Linked DNA regions of Homo sapiens. The protein of the gene in region 2 interacts with the protein of the main gene of each other region in a pairwise test. Each region holds a gene or a part of one and is shown on either strand. Other genes may lie near its edges. The genes, in order: TRA2A and XPOT.

Evidence for each region.
Region 1: the proteins of XPOT (region 2) and TRA2A interact in binary tests that used the Homo sapiens proteins (3 or more experiments, as listed by UniProt).

What each region holds. Positions count from the first base shown.
Region 1 is NC_000007.14:23,528,911-23,536,286, forward strand, and holds the start of TRA2A (transformer-2 protein homolog alpha), read right to left. Parts: upstream 3,072-7,376; 5' UTR 2,915-3,071; coding exon 2,879-2,914; intron 2,361-2,878; exon of another isoform or gene 2,271-2,360; intron 1-2,270. UniProt on the Homo sapiens protein: Sequence-specific RNA-binding protein which participates in the control of pre-mRNA splicing.
Region 2 is NC_000012.12:64,400,361-64,407,589, reverse strand, and holds the start of XPOT (exportin-T), read right to left. Parts: upstream 3,199-7,229; 5' UTR 2,786-3,198; exon of another isoform or gene 1,830-2,785; intron 1-1,829. UniProt on the Homo sapiens protein: Mediates the nuclear export of aminoacylated tRNAs. In the nucleus binds to tRNA and to the GTPase Ran in its active GTP-bound form. Docking of this trimeric complex to the nuclear pore complex (NPC) is mediated through binding to nucleoporins.

The DNA.
Region 1 (7,376 bases), on a different chromosome or scaffold from region 2:
TTTTTCCTCTTCAACTGTAGAAAACATAAATAACTCTGGAATTACAAGATAGGTCCCTAACAATAAAGAATCATTAACCTCCATGATCAACACTGGGATGCTGTATGAAAATTGCACATTTTTATAAAGTACAGTTCTTAAAATTTTAGGGGTAGAGGTGTAAAATGTTAAGAAAAGATTTCCATTCCCCTTAATTTCTATGAAGGGCATTAACATTTTTTGAGCTCAAAATCCGAATTTTAGTTGAAGCTGTATTGAGGCAAACAACTCATTACTTTTATCAAGACATGCAAAGCCACCGCTTAAGTGCTACCTTCACTCCCAGCTCCAAAGGACATCTCCACTTAAAATTGCTTTTATGGACCTACGTATTTACTTATTTTTGAGACAAGAGTCTCATTCTGTTGCCTAGACTGGAGTGTCGTGGCGCAATTCCGCCTCCCAGGTTCAAGTAATTCTCCTGCCTCAGCCTCCTAAGTAGCTGTGATCACAGGCGCACGCCACCACGCCCGGCTAATTTTGTATTTTTAGTAGAGACAGGGTTTCACCACGTTGGGCAGGCTAGTCTCGAACTCCTAACCTCAAGTAATCCACCCGCCTCAGCCTCCCAAAAATTGTTGGATTACAGGCGTGAGCCACTGCGCCCGGCCAGAAACGATTTTAAAAAGGGCATCTCCAGACAAGCTTCTCGCATTGTTCTAATTCTTTAACCAATTACAAATAAAGACAATTATCTCATCCTATAAAAACTAAAAGACGAAAAATAAAAAGATACAACAGGTGAGCCTACAAGCACTAGTTGATTTACACTAAAATACACTTGGGTACCACTTGTGAAAAAAATATTTCCTATGACCACAAAGGGCCGTAAGAGGGCCCTTTATTTCTATTAAATAAATCTTTAATGCCTACATATACTTTAGCTTAAAAGTGGGTGGGAATCTTTTTTTTTTTTTTTGAGACGGGAGTCTCACTGTCACCCAGGCTGGTAGGTGGGAATCTTAACATGTTACTTTCTTAGGAGGGAAAAGTGACAATTGTCGGCAACTTACTCCTTTCCTAGACTTGATGATAAATTAAAAAAAGAAAAAAAGCAAGCAAACAAGGTCCCTCCAGTAGTCCTCTTCACTCCCCACAAACCAAACCAAACATCAATCCCCCAATTTTTTAACAATGAAAGTTAATTGAAGGAATGTATGAATGGACAGCAAAATTTCTATCGATAATTACTCAACATTTTCAAAACAAGAAGCATTTTACAACTACTATCATATATGTTTATCGCATGATTTTAGAAAGTTCTGTTGGGGCCATCAATACACCATCCTAAAAAATAAGCAGGTTCAATTTTCATTTGTTTCCATGCTCCAAACTTTGTAAAAAAAAATTCCAATCAAAAGAATTAAAGGCAAATTTTTTAGTCTACCGGGTAACTATTATAGTCTATTGCTTTAAATCTTTCCTCAAAGAGAACTAAAGCCTAAACTGACCTTCTGATTTGACTTTTTGGTTCTAGATGTTTATATCATGAACTCCCCAAAAGGACAAAATTCGCCCTTCAGCACACACACCTCAGGTGTTTTTATGTGCTTCCCCTAGTGACTAGAATAAACATCTACACAACAGCCCGGAACGTGTTGCATGGGGCTTTTGTTTTCTTTCCAGGGTTTCACACGAACTCACTTCTACTAACTCACTTCTACAATTCCCTATGTAGGGTAAACTTTGGAAATGAAACTCACTGACAAACGTTCCAGTACATTTAAGCTGGGGATATCGTATTCTTTGTGATGTTTGTATTTCTCCGACCCCAAATATATTAATAAAAACTTTTTTCTGAGCCCTCTTCGGTGGGGGATAGAGTGAGAAGAGAAATGGGAGAGGGCCTGTTAATTTTCAGGTCATCTTTTAAGTTACAGAACAGTATATACTGACTAGTTATCTTAAAAATACTGAGCCAATGAATTCGTTCAGCTATGTAAGATTAAAGAAAGACAGATTTTTTTTTTTTTACCGTAAAAACCTGTAAAGGAGTGGTCAGTTTTTAGATGAAAGGTCATAGGAAGAAGAGCATTAAAAGTTGAGATATAAAGAAGAGAAAAAACCCAACATCGAGGAATTAGAAAAATAAGGCGTGACAGCATTTCCACATTCATTTCGAAGTGAAAGGAAAGTCGAAGGGACATTAAGGGAAAAGGGCTCCTTGCGTAGTTTCCCCTCACAGCTCTCGTCTTAAGAACGCTTAAGGGTCGGTGCGGTCGTTGACTAACCACTTCATTAGGCTCGTCCCACCTTCAACCTCAAGGCTTTCGCCTTTTTAGACGCAACGCCGCCGGTTCCAACAGAGACGCGGCCGCTCACTGAAATAGAGAGCCAAGGAGACACAGGCCCCAGCTAGTCCCACGCCAGCTTCTCCCCGCCCGGAAAGCAGCCCCGCGCACTTTCGATCCCGAGACCCTCTACGATGCTCGGGGTCGCCAGAAATGCCACCGCAGGAAGCACCTACCACTATCCGGACGGAGGGGAGCTCCCTGCCGCCTCCTCCCGCCCAACCGCGACGGGGACCCACACCTCGGAGCAGACATAAGGAAGCCTCAGGGGTGGGGAGAAGGGAGGAAGCAATGCGGGGGCGGGGAGGGAAGAGGACCCAGAAGTCCAGGTATCAGTCAGCCTCCAAAAAAGGGGGAGGGGTGTTATCCGTGGTGTTTGGGGAAGGAGTGGAACCCAGAAGCCATCTTGGGATGGGAGGAATCAATCGCGATGGCTCCAGAGGTTGCTCCTCGCGGGACTACCCGCAACCCCGCCCGACCGCGCTTGTTCCCGTGAAACCCCGAGCATTGGGCCGCCGCCTAGACGGCTCCCGCGGCTTTGTACTCACTCTGCCCTCGAAGTTGTTTTCCTCCACATCACTCATGTCGACGAGGCGCTCCCCAGAACTAAATAAGAGACAAGTCTCGGCTCGAGGGCCGATGGCCTAATTAACCCGCTGACTGGACCGTGGGGAAGAGGAAAGAGTCGGCAACCACAGCCGCTCCACTCCACTCCCACTCGGTCGCAGGCTCCAGCAAAATGGCGCCGGCGCCGCCAGAAATCTCCTGGCCTCCTCAGAGCACGACGTAAAGGGGGCGGGCGTCTCTGTGACGTCACGAGGCTCCACCTCCCGCGAGGCTTTGTGTCGGCTGGGCCTGGAGCGAGGGTGGAGGTTGGCGGGCGGCCTGCGCTCTCAACCTGGGCGCCTTGGAATCGCGGTCCCGTGCTGTCCTCCAAACTTCAGACTCACCTCGGACGCGTCAACCTCTTTGAAGACTTTTCAGTCGCCAGATGAGCCTTATATGACCTTAGCCCCTTTAAATATTGTCCAAGTGGATTCTGATGTAAGGGAACAAAACATTGGAAGCGTTTTTTTATGTTTGTTTATTTTTTGAGTCAGGGTCTCGCTCTGTCACCCAAGCTGAAGTGCAGTGAAGCGATCACTGCTCACCACAGCCTCAAACTCCCGGGCTCAGACGATCCTCCCACCTCAGGCTCCCGCGCGCGCCACCACGCCCGGCTAATTTTTTTCTTTTTTGGGACGGAGTCTCACTCTGTTGCCCAGGCTGAAGTGCAGTGGCGCTATCTAGGTTCATTGCAACCTCCACCTCGCAGGTTCAAGCAATTCTCCTGCCTCAGCCTCCCCAGTAGCTGGGATTACAGGCATGCACCACCACGCCCGGCTAATTTTTGTATTTTTAGCAGAGACGGGGGTTTCACCATGTTGGACAGGCTGGTCTCAAACTCCTGACCTCAGGTGATTTGCCCGCCTGGGCCTCTCAAAGTGCTGAGATTGCAAGGGTGAACCACCGTACCCGGCCCACCCGGCTAATTTTTGTGTGTTTTGCAGAGATGGGGTTTTGACATGCTGCCCAGGCTGGTCTCGAATTTGTGGACTCAAGCGATCTGCTCGCCTCGGCCTCCCAAAGTGCTGAGATTACAGGCCTGAGCCACCGCGCCCGGCTGGAATCGTGTATATATAACAGGCTTTTGGGGGGCACGTTGTCAGCTGACTGTATTACTTTTCTTCCATATTTGCCCTGTGTAATGTCGACGTAGTACATGCACAGATGAGGTTATGATGCAAAGCCGCTGCTCCTTGCCTCGTGTCCCTGCTCCAGTTCCCCCTCCTAGAGACAGCCGTGTAGTTTTTTTTTTATAATGCTTAGCTCCCTACTAGTTTTTTTGACTTAGATATTTCCATAAAGCTTCACAGTGAAGACCTCCCAAATCTGTCAACTTGGTTCCCAATCATAGTAATAATCTCTGAGATGAGTTTTACTTGTGTAATGCAACTTTAAAAATTAGTTTCATCTTAAATTTTTTTCCTACAGTGCTTTGTAGTAAAAAGATTGACATAGACTTTCAACTATAGTTCTATGGTAGGAAAGTTCATCTGGCATTATTATGAAGATTGCTACCACTGGGGGCAAGATTTCAGCATTTGAATGTCAGTTATTGATAGGGATAAACTTAAATGACATCTGGCTCTTAGAAAAGATGTTGAACTTGGCTGGGTGTGGTGGCTGACGCCTGTAATCCCAGTACTTTGGAGACCCTAGGCGGAAGATCGCTTGAGGCCAGAAGTTCGAAACCAGCCTGGTCAACATGGTGAGCCCCCATCTCTACAAAAGAAATTATTATTATTATTATTGAGACGGAGACTTGCTCTGTCACCCAGGCTGGAGTGCAGTGGCGCGATCTCGGCTCACTGCAACCTCCACCTCCGGGTTCAAGTGATTCTCCTGGCTCAGCTTCCCGAGTAGCTGGGATTACAGTGCGTGCCACCACACCCGGCTAATTTTTGTATTTTTCGTAGAGATGGGGTTTCACCATGTTGGCCAGCGTGGGCTGGAACTTGTGACTTCAGATGATCTGCCCGCCTCAGCCTCCCAAAGTGCTGGGATTACAGACGTGAGCTGCCACGCCCAGCCAGGTTGATACCATTTGAACCACTGATCAATCTTAGTACCATTAAAAGTGAGATAACCAGATACGAGATACCTCATGATGTGATGCAATAGAAAATACCCAGTTCCTCCTGTGAAGTATTCCTGATCCCTCAAATTGAACTCAAATCTAATTAAACCTTAGATCTAGCCAACAGTTTACAGGAAATACAAGAAAGGGAAAAATAAAAACACCGAGATGAAGTAATCAACTTCCACAGGACAAATAACCACATTCCCCAACAGATTAAATTCACAATCAAGGATGGGAGAAAGGTAGACTATTATGGACTAAGAGTCTTCCCCCCTACCCTTTTTTCCTTTTATTTATTTTTTGGAGACATAATCTGACTCTGTCACCCAGGCTGGAGTGCAGTGGCACAATCATGGCTCCAACGATCCTCCCACCACACCCTCTCACATAGCTGGGACTACAGGCCCCCAACACCATGCCCAGCTAATTTTTAAATTATTGTAGAGACCAGGTTTTGCCATGTTGCCCAGGCTGCTCTCAAACTCCTGGGCTCAAGTGATCCTGCCGCCTAGGCCTCCCAAAGTGTTGAGGAACCAGGCCGGGCCTAGAAGAGTAGTTTCTTTTTTCTTTGCCTTTTTTTTTGAGACAGAGTTTCACTCCCGTGCCCAGGCTGGAGTACAGTGGCACAGTCTTGGCTCACTGCAACCTCTGTCTCTCGGGCTCTAGAGATTATTCTGCCTTAGCCTCCCCAGTAGCTGAGACCACAGGTGCATGCCACTGTGCTCGGCTAATTTTTGTATTTTTTTGTAGAGACGGGGTTTTGATGTTGGCCAGGCTAGTCTCTAACTCCTGGCCTCGAGTGATCCACCCACCTCGGCCTCCCAAAGTGCCGGGATGATAGGAGATATTTGCTTTATGAGTTATAATCCATTGCTATCATTATTTATTTTGTTGCTTGAATTGTCCCAGATTTCAGTTATAAACTTTTGATATGTTTAAACATATATATAATGTCCTTTTTTCGGAATTGTCTATTTTCCATTTTTCTTTTTTTTTTTTTCCGAGACGGAGTTTCACTCTTGTTGCCCAGGCTGGAGTGCAATGGCACGATCTCAGCTCACTGCAACCTCCGCCTCCCGGGTTAAAGCGATTCTCCTGCCTCAGCCTCTCGAGTAGCTGGGATTACAGGCATGCGCCAGCACGTCTGGCTAATTTTGTATTTTTAGTAGAGACGGGGTTTCTCCAGGTTGGTCCGGCTGGTCTCGAACTCCCGACCTCAGGTGATCCGCCCACCTCGGCCTCCCAAAGTGCTGGGATTACAGGTGTGAGCCACTGTGCCCGGCCTATTTTCCATTTTTCTATTGGATTTTTATCCTTTGTCCCTCAAGTTTTATGAGTTCCTTGTATATTAGGAATATTAGCCTTTTATTTGTGCTTTATGTTGCAAATATTTTCTCCTAGTTTGTAAATTGTATTTGACTTTGCTTATGGTATATTTTGCATACTATTTTTTGATTTTTTAATTTAATTAATTAATTTTACTATGGCAATAAAAGATTCCCAAATTAGCATACTTTTTTTTTTTGAGACTGAATTTTGCTCTTGTTGCCCAGGCTGGAGTGCAATGGCTCATTCTCGGCTCACTGCAACCTCCGCCTCCCAAGTAGCTGGGCTTACAGGCATGCACCACCACACCCAGCTAATTTTTGTATTTTTTAGTAGAGATGGGTTTTCACCATGTTGGCCAGGCTGGTCTTGAACTCCTGACTTCAGGTGATCCACCCACCTTGGCCTCCCAAAGTGCTGGGATTACAGGCGTGAGCCACTGTGCCTGGCCACTATTTTTTTTTTTTTTTTGAAATGGAATCTTGCCCTGTCGCCCAGGCTGGAGTGTAATGGCGCAATCTCGCCTCACTGCAACCTCCACCTCCAGGTTCAAGCGATTCTCCTGCCTCAGCCTCCTGAGCTGGGATTACAGGTGAGGACCACCACGTCCGGCTAATTTTTGTATTTTTAGTAGAGATGGGGTTTCACCGTATTGGTCAGGCTGGTCTCAAACTCCTGACCTCGTGATCCGCATGCCTCGGCCTCCCAAAGTGTTGGGATTACAGGTGTGAGCCAGTGCACCCGGCTGCCCCTGGATTTTAAGTCATAGTTAGCCTTTTCCCATACTGAGATTAAAGAGGAATTCACTATGTTTTCTTCTAGTAGTTATGTAGCTTCATATTTTACATTTAGATTCGTGATCCATTTGGCATTTGTTCTTATGTATGATGTGGACTATAGATCTAATTTTACCTTTTCCAAATGGCTACCCAGTGATCCCAGCATTAAAAAGCCCATCTTTGCTTTTTAGATGTCACCTTTGTTATACACTACATTTTCTTACGGAGTTGAGTCTATTTCTGGGTTTTCTGTTTCCC
Region 2 (7,229 bases):
ATTGTCCAACTCTCCCAAATTGGATTACATGCCCCATCCTAAGCACTGCTATGCTGTCACTGCCAGCTTACTAGTTTTCTCTCATTAATCTTTTTTTTTTTTTTTTGAGACAGTCTCACTCTGTTGCCCAGGGTGGAGTGCAGTGACATGATCTCGGCTCACTGCAGCCTCTGGCTCCTGGGTTCAAGTGATTCTTCTGCCTCAGCCTCCCAAATAGCTGAGATTACAGGGGTGAGCCACCACACCCGGCTAATTTTTGTATTTTTTAGTAGAGATGGGGTTTCACCATGTTGCCCAGGCTGGTCTCGAACCCCTAATCTCAGGTGATCTGCCAGACTCGGCCTCCCAAAGTGCTGGGATTACAGGTGTGAGCCACCCGGCCATTTCTCACAATCTTAAAGGGCAAGGACTGTCTTGACTATCCATCACTATGTCCCTAGGACATAGTAGAGCATAGGTTTTGGATTTCAAAGACCTGGGTTTGTATCCCCATCTTGTCATTTTTTAATTGGGGCCACTTGGACAACTTACAAAACCTGAGAGAACCCTTTCTATGACATGGGAAAAAGACCATATGCCTCATAAAGTTGTAAAGGCTTCAAAGAGATAAGGTATGCAGAGCATGGCTGGCACATAGTGAGCCCTCAATACGTTGTTTATAGTCAGAGGTAGGAACATGTGGAATGGAAACGACTTGGGGCATTCTTATACCAGATCAGCATTTTTAAAAGACAGAAAAACACAAAGAAAGGCACTGGTTCCCTTCGCCCCCTAAATGTTAAGAAAATCTGATGTCCATTCCCCTGAAAAATGCCCACAGAGAGAAAAAACGATTTCGGAGTTTCTAAGAATCCCTGATTGAGAAGTCCAATAAAAGCTTCCTTGAATTTGCTATGGCTTTTTAAAAAAATGCTGGCCAGGCAGGGTGGCTCACGCCTATAATCCCAGCACTAAGGAAGGCCGAGGGGAGGGGGGCGCAGATCAACTGAGGTCGGGAGTTCGAGACCAGCCTGACCAACATGGAGAAACCCCGTCTCTACTAAAAATACAAAAATTAGCCGGGTGTGGTGGCACATGCCTGCAATCCCAGCTATTCGGGAGGCTGAGGCAGGAGAATCGCTTGAACCCGGGAGGCGGAGGTTGCAGTGAGCTGAGATGGCGCCACCGCACTCCAGCCTGGTCAACGAGAGCGAAACTCCATCTAAAAAAAATTGCTGGCTGGGCACGGTGGCTCACGCCTGTAATCCCAGCATTTTGGGAGGCCGAGGTGGGCGGATCACGAGGTCAGGAGTTCGAGACCAGCCTGACCAACACGGTGAAACGCCGTCTCTACTAAAAATACAAAAATTAGCTGGGCATGGTGGCCTGCGCCTGTAATCCCAGCTACCCAGGAGGCTGAGGCAGAAGACTCGCATGAACCCGGGAGGGGGAGGTTGCAGTGAGCGGAGATCGTGTCATTGCACTCCCGCCTGGGCGACAGAGTGAGACACTGTGTCAAAAAAAAGAAAAAGTGCTTAAGCTTGGTCAAGTCACTCTGAAGCTATCGGGAGAAAAATGAAGTGGCCCTAAGGAAAACATAGCCAATAAACCCAAGGAAACAAACTAGTTAACAGTTGTCACTACAGAAAGAATCCCCCACATAGAAGGCATTTGGACGATCAATATGCAGTGGAAGGCCGGGCGCGGTGGCTCACGCCTGTAATCCCAGCACTTTGGGAGGCTGAGGCGGGCGGATCGCGAGGTCAAGAGATCGAGACCATCCTGGCTAACACGGTGAAACTCCATCTCTACGAAAAATACAAAAAGTAGCCAGGTGTGGCGGGGCGCACCTGTAATAGAGCTACTCGGGAGGCTGAGGCTGCAGAATCACTTGAACCTGGGAGGCAGAGGTTGCAGTGAGCCGAGATGGCACCACTGCACTGCAGCCTGGGCGACCGAGCGAGACTCCGTCTCAAAACAACAACAACAAAACCCCAAAAAATGTTTCAATACGGTAAACAATTATGCATCTTGCAAAGGTTCTTGGGGGAAGGCAAGCAACATACTTAAAATATTAAGCCTTAACTTTTCCTGGATAGCCATTAAGAATCAAACAATTTGGAAAAATTCCTCTACACCTACTGAAGACTGTTTCAAATACTACGACTGAATCTTTCCAGCCTTTTAACACCACGCTGACAAGTCGGTTTAATAAAACGTAACTCTCCCCCAACCCCCGCCCGCCACAACTAATTAGCACTTTCAAAAAGTACTCGTTTTTCTGGTTACAGGGAAACCTCATGCTTCTCTAGTCCTGCAGGATGGTGAGGAAGGTTTGAGAAGAAATGGAGCGTCCGTGCTGGCCAATTACTGCACAGAAATAACACTTTTCCTTTTTGTCCAGGGGTGGGGGAAGAATCAAGTTTGAGGTCTCCACAGTTGATAACGCTACAACGATGACTAACGGGCTTCGGAACCACAGGCGATGCCGACCCTCCTCTGCTAGCCTTGCTCCCATCCCTCCCCCGATCCCTCCCCTAAAGGAAGCCTCGTGGCAATTCGGGTGATGAAACACCAAGCAACCGCCGGCCACGCACTCGGGACGCGCTCCTCGGCGGCGGCCCCGGCTCGTACCCACCCCCACCCGGTCCGCCCAGCCAGGGGGTGCACCGCCATAGAGGGTCCCAAGCCTGCACCCTCCCTGGCGTCGGGACTCCCCCGGGCCGGTCCGCCCCGGCCAACTTCCTCGAAGCCTCACGCGGACCAAACCTGGTCCCGGTCCCGCTGCCCCCGAGCCCCGAGTCACCTTCCCTATCACTCCATCCCGCCTCCCAGCCTGCACTCCAGATGGTCAGCCAGCGGAGCGGAGCGGCGCGGCACGCAGAGAGCTGGGAGAGCGGCCCTCGTCCTTGTCGCCGTAGTCCTCCGCCACGGCCGCAGCTACAACGCCAGAGACGGTGCTGGCCGGGACCGCGCGCCTCTAGTCGCTCTGCGTCCCCTGGCACCTTCTCTTGCGTGGCGCCGGGCAGGCAGGCAGGCAGGCAAGCAAGCAAGCAAGCAAGCGGGCGGGGTCGGCGCCCCAGGAAGGGAAAGAGCGCGAGGGCCGGCTAACGCCGCCGCCGCCGCCGCAGCCGCCGCCGCCGCTGAGTCAGCGCGAAGCGCGCTCCCCGCGTCGGTGCCGCGCGGGCGGGCGCCGGCGCCAGCAGTCTCTTGGAGAGTGCGGGCGGCAGCCCGCGGGCTGACGCCGGAGGCCTACAACTCCCAGCATGCAGGGAGCGGCCGGCGCTTCCGGGCGGCGAGGCGCACACGCGCTCCCTGGCGCTCGCCGGAAGGCGTGGTCACCGGGGCTTGAGGTGCATGCCGGGATGAGGCATCCGGCCCAGGAGTCCCTACCCAGCTCCTAAATCCCCGGCTGTGTCTGCGTGGTGTCAGAGCTCAAGCGTCAGGTTCGCCCCGAGCATTCCACAAAGGGCTTCTAGTAGTTGAGAGTACGGATTCACGAATCAGGATGACGTGGTTCTAACCACGTGTGAGTCAATTTAATTGCTTGTCTACGGCCCCAAGTGTCCCGAGTACAGCAGTGTAAAGCTCTGATGAGTGCTGACAGGTTTTCAAAATTAATTAATTAATTTATTTATTTATTCTTTGAGACGGAGTCTCGCTCTGTCGCCCAGGATGGGGTGCAATGGCGAGATCTTGGCTCACTGCAACCTCCGCCTCCGGGGTTCAAGCAGTTCTCCTGCATCAGCCTCCTGAGTAGCTGGGATGACAGGCGCGCGCCACCATACCCAGCTAATTTTTGTATTTTTCGTAGAGACAGGGTTGCACCATGTTGGACAGGCTGATCTCGAACTCCTGACCTCAAGTGATCACCTGCCTCGGCCTCCCAAAGTACTGGGATTACAGGCGTGAGCCACGGTGTCCGGTCCAAAATTTATTTTAAACAGACTAAAATTTTGTCCATGAAAAGAAGGAGAGCATTCTTAGGAAGTCCTACTCACGGGATCTTTCGATGCTACTAAATGTCACTTCATTTATTTGGTCACAGATTTATTAATTTATTAATGCAACATAGAGGCAGTGTAGGCTTAGGCTGCCTCGACTTGACTGCCACTCCGCCTCCTCACTAGTTGACCTCAGGCACTTTACTTTAGTCTATCCATGCTTCAGTTTACTCGTATGTAAAATGGGGATTGTTAATAGTACCGACCTCAAAGGGTTTCTGTGAGGTTTGAGTTAATACATGTGTTTGACACACAATGTGCTCAATATTTACATTTCATTGTTGATTATTCAATGTGTACTAAATACAGACTAGGTTGCTGCCACAGACTACAAACAAAACTTGGAGAGGGAGGAATGGTAAGAGCATAGAATAAAACTAATGTTTTAACAGCTACCTTTATTTAGCTGTCCAAGACACTACACCAGGCATTTCCTATATAAAATACCTTGAATCACTCTTGCATCATGTTTCTAATTTATGTGTTTAAAATGTCAGGCTAGTGGCTACAAGATGTCGCTAAAGGAGAACTGGGTTTTAATTTTTTCTTGTTTTTAGAGAAAGGGTCTCGCTCTGTTACCCAGTCTGGAGTAGAGTGGTCATAGCTCACTGCAGCCTTGACCTCCTGGGCTCAAGCAATCCTCCTGCCTCAGCCGCCCAAGGAGCTGGGACTACGGGTGCATACCATCATACCTGGCTATTTTTGTTTGTTTTTGTAGAGATGGGGACTTGCTCTGTTGCCCAGGCTGATCTCTAACTCCCAGGCTCAAATGAACCTCCCACCTCAGCTTCCCAAAGTGTTGGAATTACGAGTGTGAGTCCCTGTGTCAGGCCTTAATTTTCTTCACGCTGCTCTCAGTTGGCTTCCCAACGAAATAGGTTCTTTGTTGTTCTGGCATACAAATTTTCTTTTGATTGTAATCCTTGCATGCATTATGTTTCTACTATTCAAATTATTAATTATTCAAATTAATTATAAACAAGAAGTATCTCTTGTTTTACTTCTGAGAAAACCAAAGTCATGGTATTCTCAAGACTAGAGATAATTCAACAAAGCCTGTGAATCTCCCTCATTTGGAATCTCTCTGGGCCCAATCTGTTTTCCACTGCTAGGGCGCTGCTGCTAAAGCTATATCATATGAAACCACCCTCCCTAAAAGCTCAGGGACCATCTCCAAATAGGAGGGCGAGTGAAACTGTAAGAGCTGGATTGATGGGTGGAATCTGGAAGCTAAAGTAACTCCATCTTTGGTACTAATCTGCCATGTTGGTTTCTGATTAACCCTGTTCCCGGAAGGCCTTTAAGATTTCAAGTTGTGTGAGAGCACATACTGTAAATTCTGCCCTTACGTCAAAACAGCCTTGATGTTATTGTACTTCAGTTGTCTACACATCCTGACGTGGTTTGGCTGTGTCTCCACCCAAATCTCATCTTGAATTGTAATTCCCATAATCCCCTCATGTCATGGGCGGGATCAGGTGGAGATAATTGAATCATGGGGTTGGTTTCCCCCACCCTGTTCTCGTAATAGTGAGTTTTCATGAGATCTGATGGTTTTATAAGGGGCTTCCCCCTTTGCTGGGCACTCATTCTTCTCTCCCCTGCCACCATGTGAAGAATGATGTGTTTGCTTCCCCTTCTGCCATGATTGTAAGTTTCCTGAGGCCTCCTCAGCCCTGAGGTACTGTGAGTCAATTAAATCTCTTTCCTTTATAAATTACCCAGTCCCAGGCATTCCTTTATAGCAGTGTGAGAACAGACATAATACACATCCCTTCTGAATTACATATACCCTTTCCATATGGGGGTTAATGGTGAGGGGATCCACCATCTTGTTTCACTGCTGCTGGAGACACAGGCATGGCTTTTTTCACAAGTTGCTATGAATGTTATTTCTAAGAAAAAAAATCTCAGGCTAGGATTTCTGCCCTACCTATTTCAGTATATCTTTCGAGTCTAGCACAGTGCCAGCCTGCTAGTTTCAACTCAATAACTGAATCATTGCATGAATTCTTATATTAGCTGTGATGATCAACTGTGGAGTATGAAGGCCCAATACTAATCTTGGGCTGAGTGCCTCTGCAATCTGTATGTTCAGCATATTCCAGGCCTCATCCTAAAGAATATGGCAATTCAATCTATCGTATTATAGATGTCTTTACTTGCTGTTTTGTTTGTAAATTCATTTTATGGCTACTTCTTATGTTGAATGTTATACAAAGCCTATCTTCAGTTTATCTACAGTTTATCTACTAACATTAGCTCTTTCGTTTATGGTAGTTGAAATACCTAGAATTGTAGAAATCTCTTTCAACTTTGTAAACTCATATTATTTCAGAACAAATAAAGAGGCTAGGCGCGGTGGCTCATGCCTGTAATCCCGGCACTTTGGGAGGCTGAGGCAGATGGATCACAAGGTCAAGAGATCGAGACCAGCCTGGCCAACACAGTAAAATCACGTCTCTACTAAAAATACAAAAAAAAAATTAGCCGGGCATGGTGGCACATGCCTGTAGTCCCAGTTACTTGGGAAGCTGAGGCAGGAGAATTGCATGAACCTGGGAGGTTGCAGTGAGCCGAGATTGCGCCACTGCACTCCAGCTTGGGCAACACAGTGAGACTCCATCTCAAAAAAAAAAAGCCGGGTGTGGTGATGCATGCCTGTAATCCCAGCACCTTGGGAGGCCGAGATGGGTGGTTCAGGAGGTCAGGAGTTCAAGACCAGCTTGGCCAACATAGTGAAACCCTGCCTCTACTAAAAATACAAAAATTAGCAGGACGTGGTGGCACATGCCTGTAGTCCCAGCTACTCGGGAGGCTGAGGCAGGAGAATTGCTTGAACCGGGAGGTGGAGTTGCAGTGAGCTGAGATCGCACCACTGCACTCCAGCTTGGGCAACAGAGTGAGACTTCATCTCAACAACCACAACAACAACAACAACAAAAAGAACAAATAAAGAAGCACTTGGTAGAATCCAACTGAAGAGGACCTAAGAGAGGTATTACATTTGACCATTCCATATTCTGCCTCCTCCGTCCATGAAGGGATGGGCAGTTTCTCATCTCAGATGAAAATGTTAGTCATCAACATGTTGACAAATAACACTATCATTTTGTAACTGCCCAAAAGGCTCCTTTTGTAACTGCCCAATAGGTTCCCTGCTGCCTAGACAGACCCAATTTATCAAGATAGGGGAATCTCAATAGAGAAAGAGTAATTCACATAGAGCTCCCTGTATGGGAGACT